Homo sapiens: one gene and its partners. The protein of the gene in region 2 interacts with the protein of the main gene of each other region in a pairwise test. Each region holds a gene or a part of one and is shown on either strand. Other genes may lie near its edges.

Region 1 (7,442 bases), on a different chromosome or scaffold from region 2:
CTATTCTTGATATCACTATTACTATTGACTTTTTGAAAGACCACAGGCATTAAAGTTTCATCATGATGTGTATTTTTCTGCATCTGATATATGGACAGATCTGATTTTTGATTGTCCAGGTTATTTTGTCATAAGCCATTAGGGTGATTTTCATCACAGTGTTGTGACAACATCATCTTGACATACCAAGTCAGGAAGATGGAATACCGGGTTGTAATAATAATAAAGAAAAACGTTCCAGAAACGCACCCAGTCAGTGTTAGATGATGATTTTACAAAAGACTCAGTTCTAGATCTTTGATTCTGTAGCAACTTGGAAATTTTATATCTGAATGTTTCAAATTTAGGGAGGTCTCCCCATTCTAGGGTAGGTGTTATCTGATCACAATGAGATGGAAGTTTCAAGAGACCAAGAGCTAGAGAACAACCAGTGATGTTTTCCTGTTTAACGGTCACTTTATTTATTCACGACCACATACAATGCCAAGTGGTACTCAGATACTGTTACCAGCTAGGTCCTAGTCTGTTCTGCCCTGAACAGTAAATCAATTAGTGTGACATGGGTTTTGCAAAAGAAAAAAAAGATTTATTCACAAGGGCATGGAGTGAGGAGGTGGGAGAATAGCTCTGAAGTACGCCTCCCTGAAGATAAGGCTTAGGGATATTTATGGGTTAGGGAAATGGGGTGGTCTGAGTTATGGGGAAATGTAATCGGCACTGGGAAAAAAACGAAGTAACAGGCTCATTCTGCACAAATGTAGCCAGAGTTCATGGCATTATATAGGACATATGTACAGAAAAATGGCAGTGTTAGCATGATCTCAGGGTGGAGTTTTTGACCCTCTGACATCAAAAGGCCACCTCTCAGGCACTTGAAGAGTCAGTGGCCTCAACCAGTTTGAACTGGACAGAAGCTGGCCTAAGTTTCTGAGAAAAAAAAAAAATGGAAGCAACAGTTACCACGGTGACCTATGAACGTTATCTATAAAGTAGCCAGTGAAGTTAAGTCTCAGTGTTCAGTGGTGCGGTGTTCAGCTACTGCAGCCTTCAACTTCGTGGGAAAAGGAAACAACACCAAGAGGCAAATGACCAAAAGCAAGCAGGGGAGGCAGACCTAATGAAATTACCTCTCAGTTTCTATAGACTCATGCTGCTTCCAGCTCTCTGCAGAAGGCAGATTCTCTGGTGAGTTGTCCAGAGCACCAAACCAGCACGATTTTCTGTTATGTGGGGAGGACTAGGGAGTTTGCCCACAACTAAGCTCTGTGGGGACGGCAGAGATACTACTTCAGATAGAGGAGAGATGTTTGGGCTCCTTTTACAAAGCAAAAATCGTGGGCCAGGGTTGACATCCAATTACAGCTCTCTCACATCATTTAATGAGGTTCAATAATGGCTTTGTAGGGGAGTAAAACTTCATCTCCATCCTTTTGGGTCCTGGCTGGGTCTGAGGATTAAACTGACATAAAATAGATTAACAAGAGAAAAGCATATAGATTTGTCTAATCGAAGTTTTATGTGGCATGGGTGCCTTTTTAAGGAAATGAAGACCCCAGGATGAAGTTTGAGTTGGACATTTATATAGTGAATTGCACAGAGTAGTAAAACTGAAAATGCGATGAGGCAAAGGGGCATGGGCTAGTGTAGTTAATTGGGTGGAGAAGTGACTGAGAAGATAAGGGTTAGTTTAACAAGGTTTGTTTGTACAGATTTCCCTCAGCTTCAATTTCCTGTCTTTGATAAGAATGTGGCTTTCCTTCTTGTGTAGGGAGGACAGCTTTCATAGGGGAATTTTATCTCCTGCTTTTAAGAAACAACATTAAGTTCAGAGTGATCTTCTCCTACCTGCTTTTTTTTTTTTTAAGTGCTTTTAACTAAAAATAGTGAATATGCCAGAGCAGCATATTTTAGTGTGGCATTATTAACTCCTTTGGCTTCTAATCACAAATTTCTTACCTTGTTCAAGGTACTGGGGACCAAGTTTTTACTCTCTCATGGAAACATTTAAAAAGCAATCAAGCATGGATTTCTAGACAGACTTCTTAAAAGAAGTTGCAAACATTATGTCTTCTTTTTCTGTGTTGCAATATGTATACTGTTGCATCTGGAAGGGACACTCATTCTTGCAGTGCCATGATGAAACCCAGTGCTCACATCCCGTGAACCCTATCAGTAATAATTATTAGAAAGTATTACTGCAGTGCCATGTTTAAATCCTCTGGTTCCTTAGAGATTTTCCCAAAGCCTGACCAAAACAAAACAAAACAAAACAAAACAAAACACACCACTATATAATCAATTACTAAATACCATCAAACGTGTACAGGCTTTGCTAAGCACAGGAAGAAAATTTAGGGGTTGTCATCTGAAGACTTAGGGTTAGTTATGGCAAATTTCTAAACAGAAAGGTTCAACAGCTTACAGGTTTCCTGATACAGAAGTAGCTAGTCTAGGCTGCTTCAAGTGTTTTGCAAAATCTGACCTGCTTCAAATTTGTGCTCCCTTTTCCAAAATTGATTTGATTTAACCTACAATGAAAAGAAGTGCAAACAAGATCAGCAGTTCATGAGGAAGCAACTATCTAAAAAAAAAAAAAGAGGAAGAAGAGCTCTGATTGAATTAATTTTCACTCTAAGCTTCCTGGCAGCCAAAGGGAAAAAATACAGAAAAATGGAAAGAATGTTGGATCTGGAGGCATAAGGAATGGTTTTCAGTTTGGCAGTCTGCTGCTGTCACTTAGTGGCAGGGTGGCAGGGATCTCTTAATGTATTTTCTTAGATTCTGTTTCCTTATTTTAAAAATGTGGACAATAAGGATCTGGAAGGATATTGAGAGGATTCAAGGAGATACTGCATGTGAAGGAAAACTCTAAAGCATAATAAAAATGAAGTGGCCATAATGAATAAATAACATTATCCAATAAAAACAAAACATTTTAAGTCACACAATGTTGTATTGGTTTTACTACCACCAGGAAGTGAGAACACTGAGGGCTGGAACATGAAAGCACATAACACATGTTGTTTGCTGAACTAACCAAAGGAAGGAAGGAAACCTTTTCCATGTTTTCTCTTCAAGCTTGAGTAAATGTTTGGCAAATTTCATTCACTCGTTCAATAAAGAAAAGATGAACGTCAGATCCTAAGCAGCTGAGAGGGGCTGCAGAAGGTCCTATGCGTACAGGATGCTCTACTGTAAACCTATGACCACGGTTCTAAATAGGTGTGCAACACTGTCCAGCAAACCTGCTGTGATTTCAGGACAACTTCATTTACCATTCTCCCCACTCTCTACTTCAACTCTCCCACAATTTCCACAAACTTAATTCCTCACTCTTCATATCTGAACTCTAAGAAGTATTCCCTGACCTCTATCAGATTGTCTTCCTATTTCACACCACCATTAATACCACTTGCCTTTTTTCTCATGGCATCATCGCTCCAAATTTACATTTATTTGCATCATCATTACATTTGTCATTGATAGTGGTATCAAATTAATATTAATTATAAATCTAATTTATAAAATTTACATCGTTATTACACTTATTTGCATCATTATTGTATTTATTTAGAATAATGCAATTAGGTTGGTAACTGGCTCTCAGGCTGTAAACTCCAACAGAGCAGGGGCCTGTTTTTGTTCACCCTTCTGTTCCTAGGACTAGCCCAGTGCCTGATGCTTAGTAGATGCCGGGGTCAATTCTGTTAAATTAGTCAGCATTCCTGACCTCTACAAACTCTTTGTCTGGTGGGTGTGGAGGCCTACTGTGTAATGGCCGTCTAAAGTTTCAGGCGGGTTTGCATCTGTCCACCTGGGCCTTGGTAAAGAAACCTGGGTTGCCTGTTCTGCAAAGTGAACCCTGTAGCAAATGTTTTGGGAGACAGAATCTTCCCAAAGAGAACCCTGCCCCGTTACAACAACAAAACAAAACAAGCCCCAAAGCCGCCCTACAATATTTGCCTGGATCAGAGACAGGGGTTGCAGCAGAAGCTCGCGCCCCAGGGCATGACCTGGAATAAACCCTGCCAAGTATCCAGCGCGCGTGCCAGCTGGAGGCTGCGCCGGGACAGCCCCCTCATTTCTCCCGCGCTAAACCCCGCCGGACGGCTCCACTCCCTCCCTCTGCTGCAGGGGGGAGCCCGGCGCCCTAACACTGGTAATTGCTCTTGCCGCGCCCAACTGCAGCCCCCTCTCGCGCCGCCTGCGAAGACAAGGTCAGTGGCCGCGAAGTTGGAACGTGATCGGAGCCACGAGGCCCAGTGAGGCGGCACCGAGGGGGCAGCGCAACGCGCTCCCCCTGTCCAGGGCGTCAAGTGCGCCCCTCCCGGGGCCCGCCTGTGCTCCGGGCGGAGCGCGCTAGCTGCTCGGGCGCGGGGCGTTCTTGGTGCGCCGGGCCGTGGTGAGTCCGGGCTCCCGTGGCCGCGTGCTGGGAGGAGACTGGAGCCCGGTTAGGAAGAATGGAGTTGGCGACTCGCTACCAGGTGAGGGTCCGGCCGCCCGCCGCCGTCCGGACGCACCCACAGTTTGACTTCCCTTTGCCACCCGGTCCTGCTGGCCTTGGGCTGGAAACGTGGCCCTTGGCTGCGGCACTGGGGATCTGGCGCGCCCAGCCGGTTGAGTGCCGGAGTGGGCGCGCCCTGCAGGTGTGCGCAGTGGGTCACGTTTGTGCTACGCGGACCACAGAGGCCGGTCGCCCCAGCACACAACCGCGCTCAGCCTGGCGCTCTGCTCAGTCTCGGGTGGCCGCCGGGGGTGCAGGCGGGGAGCTAGCGGGGCGCAGCGCCTGCGTTTGCAGCCCTCGTGAGACGGGGGAGGGGCTTTTTTTGTGCACTCCCCACACTTTCTCCGGGAATTGGCACAGAGATCAGGAAGCTTAAGAAAGTTGTAATTTTTTTTTTTTAACAGTCGATCGCCAGACCAGTCCAACTTGGATAATGGAGTTTAAAAATAATAACTTTAGTGTTTATTCTAGAACTTTTGTAAACGTTTTCAAGGAATTAGTAACCATTTGGGGGAAATGGTAACGTCATTGGGCCGAGTTAAACAAGCTGCAAGATCCCAAATCATATGCACAGCACGACCCCAATTACGCGTTAAGGGCCTAACTCGTCTTTAAAACTCATTAGCAAACACTTGAGTAAGTTCCCCCAAACGTTTCAGTGAGTAGTGGGAATGTGAACGTGACTTCAGTTTTCTCTTTTTACTTCTTAAAAGAGCTTTTCTCTACGTTATCGTAATGGAGATACATGTTTACTTAGAAGTAAGCAATAAAAACATTTTTCATAAGAACTAAAAATACAACCTTTAAAAAGGGAAACAAGCAGCCACGCCTCTGCTTGTGGGAGCACGGAGATGCTTTGTGCGAGGATTGTTTTTTTTTTTTTTTCCACTTGTTTTATTGAGAGTCGCGAGACTCACTGCTTCCACCTTGCTTCCGACTGGTGTTTACTTTCCTCCACCTGCGTGCCTGGCCCGGGAGAAGGGGAGGCGGGGCCGCCAGCGTTGGAAGGCGCAGAGTGCCCGGCGCCCGAGCCCAAACCGCTGTCACCTGCCCGAGTCTGGCGGCAAAGACTGAGCCACTAACGGTAGCTTTGGCCTTTTAGTAATTTCTGAAGCCTTCCTGAAAATGGTCGCTTGAGAAAAATCTGTTGTTGATGTTTCTGAGAATATTTTTAAAATGCCTCCTGTGAGATAAACTATTAAAAGCAAGGGAAACAGTAAAGCCTACGGAATGAGACAGGGTTCGATTTTTTATTTTTTGCCACTGGCTTTTACCGTGTATTAGCATCCTTTTTTTTTTTTTTTTTTTTTTGGAGACGGAGTTTCGCTCTTGTCCGGGGTGGAGTGTAATGGCGCGACCTCGGCTCACTGCAACCTTCGCCTCCCGGGTTCAAGCAATTTTCCTGCCTCAGCGTCCCGAGTAGCTGGGATTACAGGCGCCCGCCACCACGCCTGTCTAATTTTTTGTATTTTTTTTTTTTTTTTAGTAGAGACAGGGTTTCACAATGTTGTCCAGTCTGGTCTTGAACTGCTGACCTCAGGTGATCCACCTGCCTCGGCCTCCCAAAGTGCTGGGATTACAGGCGTGAGCCACCACTTCCGGCTGGCGTCCTAACCTTCTAGGAGTTTCTGTTGCTACAGGACTAAAAACAAAAAACAAACCCTCTGGATGGAGATTTGAGCTCCTTGTGAGTTTAGTCAGAAAATGTATCTGGAATTTATCACTCCGGAGCTCCTTGTGAATGTAATCAGAAAATGTTTCTGGAATGTGTCACTCCTGTTGTTAAGCTGGAGAGTTCTTTGCACTTCCACTACTGATATTCATAATTCATGCTTAGGAAACTCAGAAGTCCCAGAATGTGTAGTTGGAAGTGAGCGTTTACTGCCACACAATGAGGCTAATTTTTGGTAGTTCTAAAATGTTAAATAAACTATTTATCATGTAGGGGTTACCCACAAATTATATCCGATCCATTATGCACCAATTAAGGCAAATTACTATATGTAAGATGATCAGGGTTTTTTTTTTTTTCCTTTTCTGAAGACCTAATTGGCAGTGCAAATCAAAGATGTGTGATGGTTTTTCCAGTGGAAATGTTCCTGTTCATCGTAATTTAAATGTGCACAGATTATAGTCTCTAAATTAGTGGAGAGTGGTTCTGTGGGGTGGGCAGGTGACTGCGGATAAGAACACTTAATGAACATTTCAGGCACAGCAAGATGTTAAATTCGTGTGGTTCCACCCTGTCCCCCAGCCTTATGAATAAAGCAATGTGATGAACCACCTGAAGTGGCATTACTGCACATCAAATGTCGCTCAGCTCAGTGTGCAGTGGGTTTTCATCTCACACATTGGAGTAAGTATAATTTCTATCGCTTGGAAAGCGCAGAGCTAAGTGTTTCAGCAAAGCAGCTTAGGCCTAATGTTATGAGTAAGAAGCAAACAAGGAGACTCATTTACTCTGAACTACTTTCGAGTCTGCTTTCCTGCCATCCCACCAGTGTGTTGGATTTGATGTCCTCTGACAGTGATTACGCTTCCCCCAGGCTGTAGTCTTGTCGTGCTGACCACTGTGTCTTTGTGCTTTTATATAAAATGACAGAAATAGCTCGTAAAGGCAAGGGTGTGATCCCTGACTAAGAGCTGTCAACAGTGCAGCTCATGGGAGCTCCAGCTTGCTGCAGCTCCGTAGGAGAGAAACTGGTAGGCACTGAATGTCAGTGTTCTCCTCGTACTCTGTTCTAGCTCCAGAGTACAGGATGGCCCATTTGAGAAGGAAATGATGCTAAATGTTCTTGTAAATAGGCAGGAGCACGCTGTTGAAGGGGTAAAGGGGTATTTTTCTGGTATTGGTCTCTTAGCTGCAAAGTGCTCCCATCTGATCCTGTTGTTTAACATGTAATTCCAGAGCCCCAGAAGCTGGTCACAGAAAGGACAA
Region 2 (8,002 bases):
CGCACAGAGGCTGCAAGACACCAGCAGCTATGCCAAAATCCTGACCTGCCCCAAAACCAAATTAAAAATATCCTATAAGGATGCCATAAATCGCTCCATGGTAGAAGATATCACTGGGCTGCGCCTTCTGGAAGCCGCCTCCGTGTCGTCCAAGGGCTTACCCAGCCCTTACAACATGTCTTCGGCTCCGGGGTCCCGCTCCGGCTCCCGCTCGGGATCTCGCTCCGGATCTCGCTCCGGGTCCCGCAGTGGGTCCCGGAGAGGAAGCTTTGACGCCACAGGGAATTCTTCCTACTCTTATTCCTACTCATTTAGCAGTAGTTCTATTGGGCACTAGTAGTCAGTTGGGAGTGGTTGCTATACCTTGACTTCATTTATATGAATTTCCACTTTATTAAATAATAGAAAAGAAAATCCCGGTGCTTGCAGTAGAGTGATAGGACATTCTATGCTTACAGAAAATATAGCCATGATTGAAATCAAATAGTAAAGGCTGTTCTGGCTTTTTATCTTCTTAGCTCATCTTAAATAAGCAGTACACTTGGATGCAGTGCGTCTGAAGTGCTAATCAGTTGTAACAATAGCACAAATCGAACTTAGGATTTGTTTCTTCTCTTCTGTGTTTCGATTTTTGATCAATTCTTTAATTTTGGAAGCCTATAATACAGTTTTCTATTCTTGGAGATAAAAATTAAATGGATCACTGATATTTTAGTCATTCTGCTTCTCATCTAAATATTTCCATATTCTGTATTAGGAGAAAATTACCCTCCCAGCACCAGCCCCCCTCTCAAACCCCCAACCCAAAACCAAGCATTTTGGAATGAGTCTCCTTTAGTTTCAGAGTGTGGATTGTATAACCCATATACTCTTCGATGTACTTGTTTGGTTTGGTATTAATTTGACTGTGCATGACAGCGGCAATCTTTTCTTTGGTCAAAGTTTTCTGTTTATTTTGCTTGTCATATTCGATGTACTTTAAGGTGTCTTTATGAAGTTTGCTATTCTGGCAATAAACTTTTAGACTTTTGAAGTGTTTGTGTTTTAATTTAATATGTTTATAAGCATGTATAAACATTTAGCATATTTTTATCATAGGTCTAAAAATATTTGTTTACTAAATACCTGTGAAGAAATACCATTAAAAAACTATTTGGTTCTGAATTCTTACTAGAAGGTGGTCTTTTGAAGTTAGTCCTTTCGGTACTTCTCAGATGCCTGTCATGTACCCGATGGAGTCCTTGGAAAGAAGGCCTGTGTAAAGAGGCCAGCCTGGAGGTCAATAACCTGTTCTAGTTTATTCTGGACATTGAGTACCAAGTAGCATTGGCAAAAGTCATCATCATAGCATTGAAAAAACATGAAGTTGCTAAGATGCTTTTTGGGTATCCTCAAAATAGATAGTGTTTCACTTTGTCCCGTAAGAGGAAAGAATTGTCCTGGAACCCATGAAAATGATTTCTGAAGAGTTCTTGGCTCTCTGTTGAAGGACAAGGAAGTATAAGCCTATTCCTTTGGATCAAAGAGAAACTACTGAAATTCACACATTTGTCATTAGATTAACATGACTTCACTGAATACCCACCATGTCTAGTATTGGGTTAGGTACTATGAAGACTGAGTAGAATTTACAAGCCCCCGACAACAAAGCATTGGCAATATGGGTGGGGACAGAAACAGATAAAGCAATCAGTGGGACAACTTTCAAATGTCAGCAGTATATATTAATACAAATTTTATAGTACAGATAGAAAATAGGAAAACATGCTAATTGTATAGAACAAAAATCAAGATTAGATTAATTATTGGGGGCTTTTGGTACTTAGGGTGAAAGTCACCTCCATTCTCATTGCATGGGCTATTTTTCCTCCACAGCACTCTTTTCTTCCTTATTTCACCTCTTCTTCCTTACTCCCTCTCCTAATTTGGAGGAGTTGAAATTAATTTTATGCATTAAATACTGAGTTCGCGTGCCATGCATTGTGCCAGAAGCCATGGAGTCTGTGCTAGAAATACATGGTGAAAAAGAGCCCTCATAATCCAAAAGGAAGAAGAAAATGTGGTAAATGCTGTATTGGGAAAAATGAAGGAAATTCCTTATGCTAGAGCTGGGAGACTATATTAGTCACCTCACCCTGCCATAACAAGATGCCACAGACTGTGAGCGGCTTAAACGGAAGTGTATTTTCTCACAGTTCTGGAAGCTAAAAGTACAAGCTCAAGATGCAGGCAGGGCTGGTTTCTAGTGAAACCTGGCTCATGGGTGGCTATCAGTCTTATCTGATTAGAGTACCCACCCCTCCTTTATGACCTCATTTAACTTTAATTACCTCTTAGGGCTCTATCTCCTTATACAGTCACATTGTGGGTTGGTACTTCAACATAGGCATTTTTGAGGGACTCAATCCAATCCATAACAGAGGCCTAGCCTAGAACAGGAGTCTGGAGACCACTCCAGGAAAGTGATATCAAAACAGATCAGCAGCATCAGTGTAGAGCAGTTCCTCGGGCTGAAACAGTAACTAGAGAGTACAGTCAATTGACAAATCTTTCCTACTCCCTCCAGGCTTGTGCCAATGTTGTCATGAAGCTCTGAGATGACATGGGGCTGTATCCTGAAGAGAGGATATGTTTGACGTGGGCTAAGTTTTAATTTGGTTCACATATACAAACAGGGAAATATACACTAGAACTTTTTATCAGGAGTCATGTCACATCAGAAATAGTCTCACATTTTTCCAGACCAACCAGCTAACTATGGAAATGCAAATAAAAAGTAAGGATACCGGGCTGGGCGCGGTGGCTCACGTCTGTAATCCCAGCACTTTGGGAGGCTGAGGCGAGCAGATCACAAGGTCAGGAGTTCGAGACCAGCCTGGCCAATATGGTGAAACCCCATCTCTATTAAAAATAGAAAAATTAGCAGGGTGTGGTGGCATGTGCCTGTAGTCCCAGCTACTCGGGAGGCTGTGGCAGAAGAATTGCTTGAACCCGGGAGATGGAGGTTGCAGTGAGCTGAGATTGCGCCACTGCACTCCAGCCTGGGTGGCAGAGCCAGACTCCGTCTCAAAAAAAAAAAAAAAAAGATACTGTAGGCAGAGTATGAATACATTAACTTCATACTCCTCTCTTACCAGCTTCTAGCCACTTCTGTATTTTATGGTGCTGCCTATTTATAGTCTTATGACTATTTTTTTAAGTGAGAACCGTGCTATTTGCCTTTAGAAATAATTGTTCACCAAAAAATTCCCCCACAGTTCCTTCACATGGGTAAACAAAGTGCAAAAGGAAACCAAGGTTTGACACTTGGGCTTGAAAAAATTTTAAAAAGTAATATAAAATGGGTTAGATTCTAGGAGTTGAAACCATTTGGGGAAACTACAAGGGCTAATTCCAGGTGTTGGGTAGGAAATGTACAAAGTTAAGCTTGTGTTATCAAAGCAAGAAAGCATTCAAGGACTAATAGGGATACATGAAAGACACAGATGGCTTAATGTGGCTTCCACTGGCCACATTTGGGACAATTTGAGCATCAACAAGAATTATGATGTTAAAGGAGTATATTATATTGAATTAAAAAAAAACCTTAAATCAATAACTTTAAAAACACCTTGATTCCCATAGTGAAGCAAACACTAAAATGGAGGTGTGGAAAGAATGCCAGTTAATAAACATAAAAGGCATGATACTATTGCGGAATCACTTATAACTCCTAATGTAACAACAGATTCAGTGAAGGACTGTATCAAGGAGTTGGGGAACAGGTTATTCTTATGGACTCAAGGTATAATCCACAGATTGCTTACCAATTCCTAAGAGGAAAATGTACTATTAGAATGAAGAGATGTAGCCACCACCTTTACCAAGTGATCAAATTTAGCATTACTAATATAACTGAGTTATGCGTCCCCGTGAGTTGGCAACATCTCTTAGGTAGTATTGCAAAAGTGCTCAAACTGAATCTAATCATGAGGGAAACAAAATCTGACAAATCCAGAATGAGAGAGATTCTACAAGACAACTGGCCTAGGCTCATCACAACATGTAATGATTTAATAATTTAAAAAGGAGGGTGAAGGAGGCTGATCTGGATTAAAAGAGACAATAACTAATTATAGCTTATGAGTTGAAAAAATAAAACTGCTATAGAAATAATTTTGGGGACAATGGGGAAATTTGAATATGAACTGTATAATAAATGATTTTATGGACTTACTAATTTTCTTAGGTTTGATCATGTATTGCGGTTACACAGGAAAATGTTCTTATTCTTAGAACATGCATGCTAACATATTTGGGGGTGAAAAATCTGCAACTTACTTTCAAAGAATTCAGCAAAAATCATTGGGTGGGGCTGTGAATGTGGAGAGAAGAGACGGAGAGAAATCAAACCTGGCAAAATGTTAACAATGAGCTGAAGGACGGCTAAACGAAAGCTCATTGTACTATTTTTAAAACTTTTCTGTAGCTATAAGCCGTTTTTTCTGAGGAAGTCGAGGAGGGCGAATATCTTTCTGGAAAGGCCAGAGCAAATGCACGCAAGAGCTGAGAAAAGATTGGAAAACGCCTCTCAAAATAACAGTCCCGCCCTTCCCGGGACTCTTCCCTATAGGCTGTTCAAGTCACGTGGCGACTGTGGCCCCGCCCACAGCTCCCAGAGGCCTGCGCGTGCGGTCTGCAGTTCGGCCGCTTCCTCTTGGCGGGTGGGCTGCAGCTATGGAGGGCGAGCCTCCACCTGTGGAGGAGCGGCGGCGGCTGCAGGAGGAGCTGAACGAGTTCGTGGAGAGCGGCTGCCGGACGTTGGAGGAGGTGACCGCGTCCCTGGGCTGGGACCTAGATAGTCTGGATCCCGGGGAAGAGGAGGCGGCGGAGGTGAGGAGCGCGGCCGCGGGGCCCTTTCGGGGACTATCGGCCCGGGGTCTTCTCTGGAAGAAGGGAGATCCGCACTGGCAGCCGCGGAGGGAAGGGCGAGGAGTCCTCGTCCGTGTGCAGAGCCGCGATGGGCGCCTGGGACCCGAGGGGCGCCGGGGGCCCTGGAGCAACCCTGACGTCCCTGGGTTCCGGGCTGGGGCGCGCGAGGAACTCCCGAAGGCTCCACATCGACCTCCAGTGCGGCGCTCCTCCCGCGCAACTTCGAGTTTAAAGAAAACCGGGGGCCGGGCGCGGTGGCGCACGCCTGTAATCCTAGCACTTTGAGAGGCCAAGGCGGGAGGATCCCTTGAGCCCAGGAGTTCCAGACTAGCCTGGGCAACATGGTGAAACCTCTTCTCTACCAAAAGTACAAAAATTAGCCGGGTGTGGTGGTGTGAGCCTGTGGCCCCAGCTATTTGGGAGGCTGGGGTGGAAGGATAGCTTGAGCCCAGGAGGTCGAGGCTGCAGTGAGCCGAGATCGCTCCACTGCATTCCAGCCTGGGCGACAGAGCAAGACCCTGTCTCAAAAAACAAACAAACAAAATCCAGGAAGGTGTGTTGAGTGAGGAGGGAATGGCAGATTTGGTATTTATTTAGAAAATAAGTGAACGTGTCTCAGAGCGCTGCAGAGGGATTGGCGGTTTGCATTGTCATCTGTCATACGGATTCCGCAGTTGCACCAGATTCGGTGTCAGGAGAGCTGGGAGTTTGCCAGTTCGCCTTTCTGTGCCTTAAAATTGGACACTTCTGACTGGGACAGCACCAATTCTAGGATTATTAAAGGTTGTCACCAAGAGGTGGTAACTGGCAACTCCTGTGGACATTAGAATTGCTTTTTTAAAAATGTAGGCAAGTGTATTTAGAGTGAACATTCGTGATTTTTGTTTTTTTGTGGGGTATTTTCGGTGGAATGAGAGGAAGGGAAGTGCTCCAATGTGGGGTAATTCATTATCTTTACTATTACTTCTGGGTTTACCATGCTGTGATAATTTCTCCTGGGTTTAAGTTACATGACTGATTCCTCAGAGGCATTTAAAATATATTTGATTTCTGTATATACCATTCATTGTTTATTGTATTAAAAGCACAGAGGAAATTAAAAAATCTTTAATATTCATTTAGAGGGGTATTTGAAGCTGGGAATTCCACTGAGTGGGGCTTACCAGACCCTTCCATACATTGTTTACTCAGCATTGCGGTAACATTGGATTCCTTGTATTAACGTTTAAATAGCACTTTGTTTGCCACTTACATTACTTCATTTAATACTCAAAATAACCCTATGAGGTAGGTATCTTTGGCCACATTTTATAGACGAGGAAAGGAACACAGAAGTGATAATTTGTCGAAGGATACACTGCTAGTAAATGGCAGTTAGGATTTCCGCCGGTGTTTTAGTACTGAAATTTAGTGAACAACAGTCCTAGTTGTCATCTGTTCCTAGTTGTCACCTAGTTCCTAGTCCTCACAGAGCTAGTCCTAGTTGTCACCTAGTTCCTAGTCCTAGTTGTCACCTAGTTCCTAGTCCTCACAGAGCTTATTGTCTGGTGGTGATGAGGGGTAATACGGATAACTGAACCATTATATTATCATGGGTCTGTGATGGGTGGGGTTGGAATTGCTATAGTACAGTTTATTGTAGGCGGTGGTGGACAAAGTGGTGGTCAGCAAAGGCTTCCTGGACAAAGTGAATTCTAAGCTGATAAATAAAAGTGAGTTGAATTGGCTAGGGGGTTGGCGGGTGCGGGGAAGAAGCATCAACAGCATGTGTAGAAGTTCAGAGACAGGGAGTGACCAGATCGGGAAGCCTCAAGTAGTTAAGGATAGCTAGAGCATAGAGTGTAGAGTTAGAGTAGAATGGTGATGGTGGGTAGAGGTCAGATCTTAAAGGTCCTTGTCAGCCATATTAGAAAGTCTAGATTTTTTTTTTTTTTTTTAATGAAGGCAGTGGGGAGGTATGGAATTATTTTAAGCCAGGGCATATTATAATCACATTTACCTTTTAATAAAATAATAGCATACATTTATTGAATGCTTGCTATGTACCAGGCCCTATTTGAATTCCTTTATGTGTATAAACTTTGGTATACTTTTTTAAATCTTCACAATCACTTTGTGAGAGAGGTCCTGCTATTATTTTTATTTTATATAATAGAAAATGAGGCAAAGAGAGATTAAGTACCTCACCCAGTTTCATGCAGCCAGTAAGTGGCAGAGATGGAATTCAAACCAGCTACAGGATGGAAACTGAAGGGGAGGGCAGCAAGACTGGAAGCAGAGAGAGAGAGCAAGAGTGAGAGAGAGCGAGCGAGCGTAGTCAGGAGATGGTGTTGTATTCCAGGAGAGAGTTGATGATACCCTGAGTTGGGGAAGTGGCAGTGGGGATGGAGGATGTTGAGGGATTTTCAGAAATATTTAGGAGTTAAATTGGCAGGACTAGGTGATTGATTGGACGTGGGTGATGAGGGAGAAGTAGTTTCTTGCTTGAGCAAGGGGGACCTTTCACTGAAATAGAAAAGTACAAAAGGAATAGATTTGAGGGTTGGGAGATGATGAATATAATTAATTTATTTTTGTTTGTGTTGAACTTTTAGTGTCTTTAATATACGGTACTGGAGAGAAACAAGGTTTAAAGATCTAAATTTTGGGAGTCCTCACTGTATAGTGAGAGTTGTAGCTTTGAGATCTTTCAGTAAGCATATATTAAACAGCAAAAGGTCAGTGGTTATATTAATACTTACATGAAAACCAACATCTAAAGGGGGACAAATAGAGCAAGGAAGACAGATATTTAGGATATTTAGAGGAGACCAAGTAGAAGAAGCCAGAGAGGTAGAAAGAACATGAGGGGTGTGTCAGAATCACAGATGGACAATTGGAGTGTGACCTTCCAAGAGTTCAGATAAAACAAGACAGTGACATGTTTTTGGCTTTAGTAACAAGGTTATTAGTGACCTATTGACTGGTTTCAGTGGGGTGATGGTGGCAATGAGTGAGGAATCGTTATAGGTGAGGTGAGGTTGTTTAGACAGTGAGTGTAAATACACCTTTCAAAGAGTTAGGCTTTGAAGGAGTGGAGAGAGGACAGGGG
Region 3 (7,366 bases), on a different chromosome or scaffold from region 2:
TCTTTACAGCGAGCTTCTAGGAGCAGTAGGGACTTGGTCCTTTCTGCAGCTCCTACTACCCACCCTGCTTAGACAAGTCCATTGGGTAATAGGCCTCAGGAATTGCAGACTAGTTCTCCCACGATTTCTAATTCCTGCCTCACCTGTGAGAAGACAGGACCAGCTCTTCCTTATCAGTGCTGGCCTCGTTCACGCTTCCAGCCCTGGAGACCGCACAAAGATACAGAGGCCTTCTTGGGTCCGGCCTTAGCCAGAGAGCCCCCAGGTCGGCAGATCCTGCACAACTCAAGACAGGGATTCCTAGATCCCAGGGTGTGGTCTCATGCAAGGCCACTTCTCTCCAGGCCTCTGCCATCCCAAACATAAAGCAAGGAGGTTAAGCTCAATTATCTTGGCTGGGTGTTTTGGCTCATGCCTGTAATCCTAGCACTTTGGGGGGTCAAGGAGGGAGGATTGCTTGAGGTCAGGAGTTTGAGACCAAGCTGAGCAACACAGACCCTATCTCCACAAAAAAAATTTTTGGCCGGGCACGGTGGCTCACATTTGTAATCCTTGAGTCCGGGAGGCAGAGGTTGCAGTGAGCCAAGATTGTGCCACTGCACTCCAGCCTGGGCAACAGAGCGAGATGCTGTCTCAAAGAAAAAAAAAAGTCCTGACCCCCATGGCTTGTCATGGGGCCAGTGAGCACCCAAGTGACCCTGTCAAAGGAGGGAGCAGGCTGGGATGATGCCAGAAAGGGGACCCTGCTTTTCCCACCTGAACCTGCCCACCCTACTCCCTCCAGTGACCTTGCCAGGCCATATTCCAGGGAACCTACATATTAGACTGTGGCCTCGGGATGGCCTCAGCATTTCAGATTCTGGCCTGTCCCTCTCTGCAGCTTCCTCCACCCCTCACTTCAGTCTCATCACCTTGGTGCCTTTTAAGGGGCCCTCTGGCTAGGTCGATGTGATGCAATGAGATGTGCCCTTAGGGAGCTCACGGTCTAATCCCGATGACAGTTATAACCCACATGATAGCAATGCGCAGGGGCTGCAATGCAGGGCAACATGGGGTGCTGTCTGGCTCCCCAGGAAGCAGAATCCCAAGTTTTCAAAGGTGTGCGTGCACTAGCCAGGGGGAGAGGTGGGAATAAAGGCATTTTAGGCAGAGAAAGCCCCACATGCACAGAGTGAAGGGAGGAAAAGGTGTAACTGCTCAGGGAATTACCGGAAGCCACTGAATTCTAAGGTAGCTGGGGCAAGAGGAGGGGAATCCCAAGGGGGAGTGACACCATCAGGGGCTCAGGTGTGTGTGTCACAGGGCCACTGGATGGATCCGTGGGCCAAGGGATGACAGGCAGGGTGACCAGTGAGGCTGTCACCTGGAGATGACAGTGGTCCAGGCGACGGTGCTGACTGTGGGGTCCGAGAGGTTCTCAGCCTGAAAGGGTAGGATCACTGGCCTCAATGTCTGCTTAGCTTGTAGGAATCAGGGAGCAAAGAACAGGATGGGGTCTGGGGTGACACCCAAGATTCTAGCTTAAACAATTGTGCAGATGAGATACAGGAGGAAAAGCCAGTTGGAGGAAGGGGAAATTTCCATGAACTTAAAATTCCCTGTGTCTGTTTGTGGTGTCCAAGGAACACACAGGAGGCCCAGGATGTGCAGTTTCCAAAATGGCCAACACTGGCTGGCTCTTCCCAGAGATCCTTGCCGGTTGGACACAGCTGTCATCCAGTGGCTTGGCCTCAGGGTCCCAGATGCACTTACTGCCCCTGTCCACCCCTGCCTGCCAGGAAAACATCACTGATGCCCTGTCACCTGTGACCAGAGGCTACTCCACAGACAAGGTCCGGTCCAGCTATGGTCTGGCAATGAGTAGGAAACATCCCAAAGCTGTCACTGTTGTGACAGGCAAAAGAACTCTGTGCTACCTCCTAGGAGGATCCCAAGTTTTGATCCCCTCAAGGTGAGACCAAATGCAGGCCCTTCCCCAGGAGACAGAAGAGCAGGGCCAAACACCTGCTTCCCATGACCCAACAGACCCTTTCTTTTCTCTGCCCCAAGTTCCTCCTTCTCACTTCCCTCTTCATCACCCAGTTAGCTGCCTGACCCTCAGATTCACCTAAACACACAGCACCAGGTCCACCCTGATTCAGTGAGGCATGGGGTGGCACAAAGGAATCTGTCATTGTCAAAGTCTCAGGTGATGCAGATGACCATTCAGGCCTCAAACCCTGCACTGTTGAGTCCTCCATCCTCTTACCCATTTCAGGCAACCTATCTGGGGAATCACAAAGTCTTTGAAAAAGAAAAATATTTATTTTCAGCAAGACCAAAGTCCCAAGTGGGGGCAGGTGCCAAATTTGCCCCCGCCACCAGAGGGCCTAGGCCCACAGGAAGCCTGAAGCCAAATTCAGGCGTGGAAGGAGGGGAGCCACCAGTGGGGCGGGACAGTCACTTGTACTGAGGAGAGAGCGGGGGGACAAGTGGAGCAGTGCAGACACTCAGCATCTTGTCGATGTCCACCTGGGTTGACTTATCCACCTCGGCCTTGTGGTCACTCACCCCCAAGCTGGGCAAGCCCCCAGGCTCCTCTCCAGCCTCCTCTCCGAGGGGAGCCAGGGCATGGGTGGGGGTCACTAGTGGACTGGGACAGGGCAAAGCGAGGCCTGGGCCCAGCTCACCTGCCAAGGGCAGCAAGGCCTGCAGTTGCTCCACACCTCCCTCCTCGGGAACCGGGGCCAGCTCTGCCTCTGCCTCCACCTCAGCCTCCCCGTCCCCCTTCCCTGCCTGGTTCAGCTCAGGGTTGCAATAGTTGACGTACTGGTACAGCGGCCGCAGGCGCTGGGCCTTTCCTGCAAAGACCCAGGGCAGGGCAGAGGCTAGAGCGCCAGGTTGTGCCATGTCGGGCCCCACAGGCAGGGGGAGAAGGAACAGTCCAGGGACTGCCACTCACGCTCCAGCCTCAATGTCTCTAAGGGTGCAGACACCATGCTGGCCACAGCGTGGAGCACGGGAGCCCCCAGGCTCTTGCGCTTCTTGGCTTTTTTGTGCTGTTTGGCAGATGGTGAGGGCTCACTCTGGCTGTCCTCTGGCTCCTCCTCCTGCAGCGGCAGCTTGGGTGGCAGCTCAGCTTCAGCCTTAAGATGGGCACGAAGGCCCGGGAGGCTGAGAGACCTGAGCCAGGGACAAGAGACTTGAGCCAGGCTCCAGCCCTGGCTCCCATTCCCTGGCCCAGGGAATAGCCCAGCCTGCCCACAGCCCCAGGGCTCGACGCCTGTCCCGTTCCTGGTCAATGAGACCCCAGGCCCAAGAGGCTTAGAGGCCAGTGAGCCCAGGCCCCTACAAGCCCTGAAGCTCCCACTCTCCTGCTGCTCCCTACACGGGGGCTCTTGAGGAACGGGAGGAGAGTGATGGTAGTGGCTGGGGACGAGAATCCTCCCTGCAGGAGTGCAGGATTTAGGAATCCTACTGTGGTGTGTGCCCCAACCCCGGGGCTGCAGCTCCTTCCCCCCGAGAGCCCCCTCACTTGACAGGCTTTCTCTTTGGACCATGACGGGGCCTCACAATGGAGACCACGGGCCTGGGGCCTCTCTCCTCTAGCGCCCCGGCATGCGGCTTGGGCCGCTCCTCCCCCAGCTTGGGTCCTTCCTCCTGGAGCTCCGACTCCGAAGCTGCGCCTGCTGGGCGCTGGTCTTCACTCTGGGTTCCGCGGGCCTCATGGGCAGGCACCAGGAACTGGTCTCCCGCCACTGGACACTAGAGATGACACACAGGCCATCGGTCACCATGGCCGGGCAAAGGACATAGGGATCCGTCACTGAACACCTAACGTTAGACACCGAAACGGGAATAAGGACACCAGCCTGTGCCCCTCCCCGCCTGGAGGGCCCAGCCTGGCAGTTAGCGGGTCGGGGCGCTCAGTTCCACCTCTCAGAGCGCTGCGGCCCTGTGTTTGAAGGTTAAACAGCCTGACGGTCACCTCGGAGGTCTGAGCGCTGCCGGGCTCCTCCGTGAGCTGTCCCTGCCCCACGACCGTCGCCTCCTGGACCCCCGGCCGCCTCTCCGCCCCTGCCGAGGCCATGGCTGCGCAGGCTGAGTGCGTCCTCGACAGCTGCTTGGGGCGGGCCCCAAGGGGCTGGATGGTGGCCCCGCGCTGACCCCGGAGACCGGCCAGCAAGCGAGGGCAGAGCTGGGAAGAGAAACCGGCGACCGCGGAGCCCACCCTCGGCCGAAACTACAAGCCCCAGGACGCTTTGCGCCGGGGTCAGTGGGCCCTGACCCCGGGGACGGAAGCCACGGTTGCCCGGCAACAACAAGTCCCGTCGGGTGGCAGCGGCTGGCGGCAAAACCTCTCGAGTGAGCCCCTGCCCGAGTGCCGCGGGGGAGAGGCCGCGAGCGGGACCGAGAAGTGGGCTGGGAGCAGAGGTCGCGGAGGTGGCGAGCGAGGCCGGGGCCCAGGCGGGGACCGGCAGGGGCCCGGGAGTGGCGGGCACGCCAGGGTCAGGGTGCCGGGCGAGGGAGGGGGCCCGGGGTTGGGGAAGGGGGCCCGGGGAGGGAGGTAAACAGCCCTGCAGGCCTCGGGGCACCGTTGCTGGGCGGCGCCGGCGGCATGTGCGAGGGCCCGTCCCGCATCTCGGGGCCCATCCCCCCAGACCCGACGCTCTGTCCTGACAACTACAGGCGGCCGACCTCGGGTGAGTCCGGGGGCTTGGCGGTGGTGCGAGGCTCAGGGGTCGGCCCTGGCTCCACCTCTGAGCCCCGGACTCCGCCCGGCTCCGCCCCACAGCTCAAGGGCGCCTCGAGGGAAACGCGCTGAAGCTGGACTTGCTGACTTCCGACCGGGCCCTGGACACCACCGCTCCCCGTGGCCCCTGCATCGGTCCCGGTGCCGGAGAGATCCTGGAGCGCGGCCAGCGCGGCGTCGGGGACGTGCTGTTGCAACTCGAGGGGATCTCCCTAGGTCCTGGGGCCTCTCTCAAGAGTAAGTCCCAGGAATGGAAGAAGGGACAGAGAGGCAGTGCGGGGTGGAAAGAGATCAAAAGCAGCTGCTCTTTCCACCCTGACGTGGGCCCAGGCTTTGCATCTCTTGAGTCTCAGTTTCCCCAACTATAAAAGGGGGAGAAATATGCTACCTTCTCGAAGGAGGTGAACTGAATGAGGTAGTTCCCACGAAGCCCTAGCTCTGCTTTATGCATTTGTTACCCATTAAATTTGTTTGTTGAGTGCCTACTGTGTGCCAGGCCATATAGATGCTAGAACACAGGGCTGAAGATAAGCATGAGCCATCACTGAGTCAAGGTGGGATACAAAGATCAAGAGATGAATGTCATATATGAGATGATCTATGGTGTACTTCAATGGTGTACTTCACTATAATAATGGAGGAAATCACCTGGGCGCAGTGGCTCACTCCTGGAATCCCAGCACTTTGGGAGGCCCAGGCGGGCAGATCACTTGAGTCCAGGAGTTGAAGACCAGCCTGGCCAACATGGTGAAACCCCATCTCTACAAAAAATACAAAAATCAGGCTGGCATGGTGGAGTGTGTCTGTAATCCCAGCTACTCGGCAGGCTGAGGTAGCCGGGGAGGTTGAGGCTACAGTGAGCTATGATCATGCCACTGTACTCCAGCCTGGGTGACAGAGTGAGACCCTGTCTCAAATAATAATAATAATAATAATAATGGAGAAAATCATCCTGTGATACTTACTACATGAGGAAGGGAACACGGTGATGAGGGAGAGTGTGTGTAGGGTCTAAGGTAGTTGGAGAGGTCAGGGAGCTCTTTCTGTAGGAGGCAGGGGGCAGGCCTGTGTGTGAACTAGTGGAAGTTGGACTGTGTGGGCCCCATGTAGGGCAGAACCTGGGGGCATCTTTTCTCCAGGGAAGGACCCTAAGGACCATGAGAAGGAGAACCTGAGGCGGATCAGGGAGATTCAGAAGCGCTTCAGAGAACAGGAGCGCAGCCGGGAGCAGGGCCAGCCCAGGCCCCTGAAAGCTCTGTGGCGCTCACCCAAGTACGACAAGGTGGAGTCCCGGGTCAAGGCCCAGCTCCAGGTACCTGCTTCAGGGAGCCAGAAGTATTATCCATTTTGTTGGCCAACAGGCAACTGTACCCTGATCTGAGTTCTGGGGTGGGAGGGAAGTCACAGAGGTAACAGAGGACTAAGAGACCCTGGCTCTGCTGCAGGGCGAGGCTGGGGGGCTTCTCAGAAGTAGTGATGGTGGGGCTGATCCTGAGGGCAAGTAGCAATTAGTCAAAGGGACAGCAGAAGAGAACATTCCCAAAAGATGGAACCTCACAGACCACAGGGCACGCAGCAGTGGAGATGCTAGGTACAGTTCACTGTGAGGAAAGAAGGGCGTGAAGTTAGGCCAAGAAGTCAGCTGGACCCACGTCAGGGGCCACAAAAGCCACTTTTCAGCCCTTATTTCTGAGGACAGTGGGAAGGGCAGGGGTATGGTGGGGGGCTCTGTCTCAGGGACTCAGTAGGAGGAGCAGGAGTGAGAGGAAAGGCAAGGTCACACAAATGTGTTGTAGCTGAAGCATCTGTGGGGTTCCCAGGGGGTGGGAGTGTGTCCAGGAAGCAGATGGAAATTCAGGCCTGGATCTCAGGAGTGAGACCTAGGAGTTATTGACGATCAGGTTGAGGACAACGAGACCAAGGAATTGACCGCCTGGATTTGAGGACTTGGAGGCCAGCTGTTAGGAGCCTTGCAGGGCTAGAGCCAGGAAGCTTGGCTAGGAAGGAGGAAAGAGAGTGGTAGCTGGGCCAGTACTGAGGTGGAAGGAGAGATGGTTTGTTGTTTTCTTAAAAATCTGACATACTCACACATTTGTGTGCTGATGAGGACAAGTGTCCCTTGAAGAGGGAAGAGGGCCCGAGGGACATGGATGCAAAGGTCAGAAGGGCCAAGATGGCCAGGGTCTTGCAGCTTGAGCCCCAGACCTCAGCCTGCCTGCTCTCTCTGCTGTGCCCTGCCCTCCAGGAGCCTGGCCCTGCCTCTGGGACAGAGTCTGCCCACTTCCTGCGGGCGCACTCCCGCTGCGGCCCTGGCCTCCCACCACCCCATGTATCTAGTCCCCAGCCAACCCCACCAGGTCCCGAAGCTAAGGTGAGAGGATGTATGGGGGCTAGATGGTGGTTGGGCAGGGCTCCTGGTGTGGGGGGGGTGTTCAGGGACACAACATAATGCTGTCTGCCCCCACCCACGCTTGCTGTGTCCTGCAGGAGCCAGGCCTGGGGGTGGACTTCATTCGTCACAATGCACGAGCTGCCAAGAGAGCCCCCCGGAGGCATTCCTGCTCACTGCAGGTCCTGGCACAAGTGCTAGAGCAGCAGCGGCAGGCCCAGGAGCACTACAATGCCACGCAGAAG

Evidence for each region.
Region 1: the proteins of SNRNP48 (region 2) and CDCA7L interact in binary tests that used the Homo sapiens proteins (3 or more experiments, as listed by UniProt).
Region 3: the proteins of SNRNP48 (region 2) and ENKD1 interact in binary tests that used the Homo sapiens proteins (3 or more experiments, as listed by UniProt).

What each region holds. Positions count from the first base shown.
Region 1 is NC_000007.14:21,942,823-21,950,264, reverse strand, and holds the start of CDCA7L (cell division cycle-associated 7-like protein), read left to right. Parts: upstream 1-4,365; 5' UTR 4,366-4,460; coding exon 4,461-4,484; intron 4,485-7,442. UniProt on the Homo sapiens protein: Plays a role in transcriptional regulation as a repressor that inhibits monoamine oxidase A (MAOA) activity and gene expression by binding to the promoter.
Region 2 is NC_000006.12:7,585,542-7,593,543, forward strand, and holds the start of SNRNP48 (U11/U12 small nuclear ribonucleoprotein 48 kDa protein), read left to right. Parts: upstream 1-4,656; 5' UTR 4,657-4,716; coding exon 4,717-4,872; intron 4,873-8,002. Other genes in the region: DSP (desmoplakin), read left to right, coding at 1-337. UniProt on the Homo sapiens protein: Likely involved in U12-type 5' splice site recognition.
Region 3 is NC_000016.10:67,663,674-67,671,039, reverse strand, and holds the start of ENKD1 (enkurin domain-containing protein 1), read left to right. Parts: upstream 1-4,289; 5' UTR 4,290-4,597; coding exon 4,598-4,682; intron 4,683-4,774; coding exon 4,775-4,969; intron 4,970-5,871; coding exon 5,872-6,044; intron 6,045-6,977; coding exon 6,978-7,103; intron 7,104-7,219; coding exon 7,220-7,366. Other genes in the region: uncharacterized protein C16orf86, read right to left, coding at 2,440-2,867, 2,942-3,539. UniProt on the Homo sapiens protein: Microtubule-binding protein which regulates microtubule organization and stability. Promotes the stability of astral microtubules and facilitates the proper orientation of the mitotic spindle.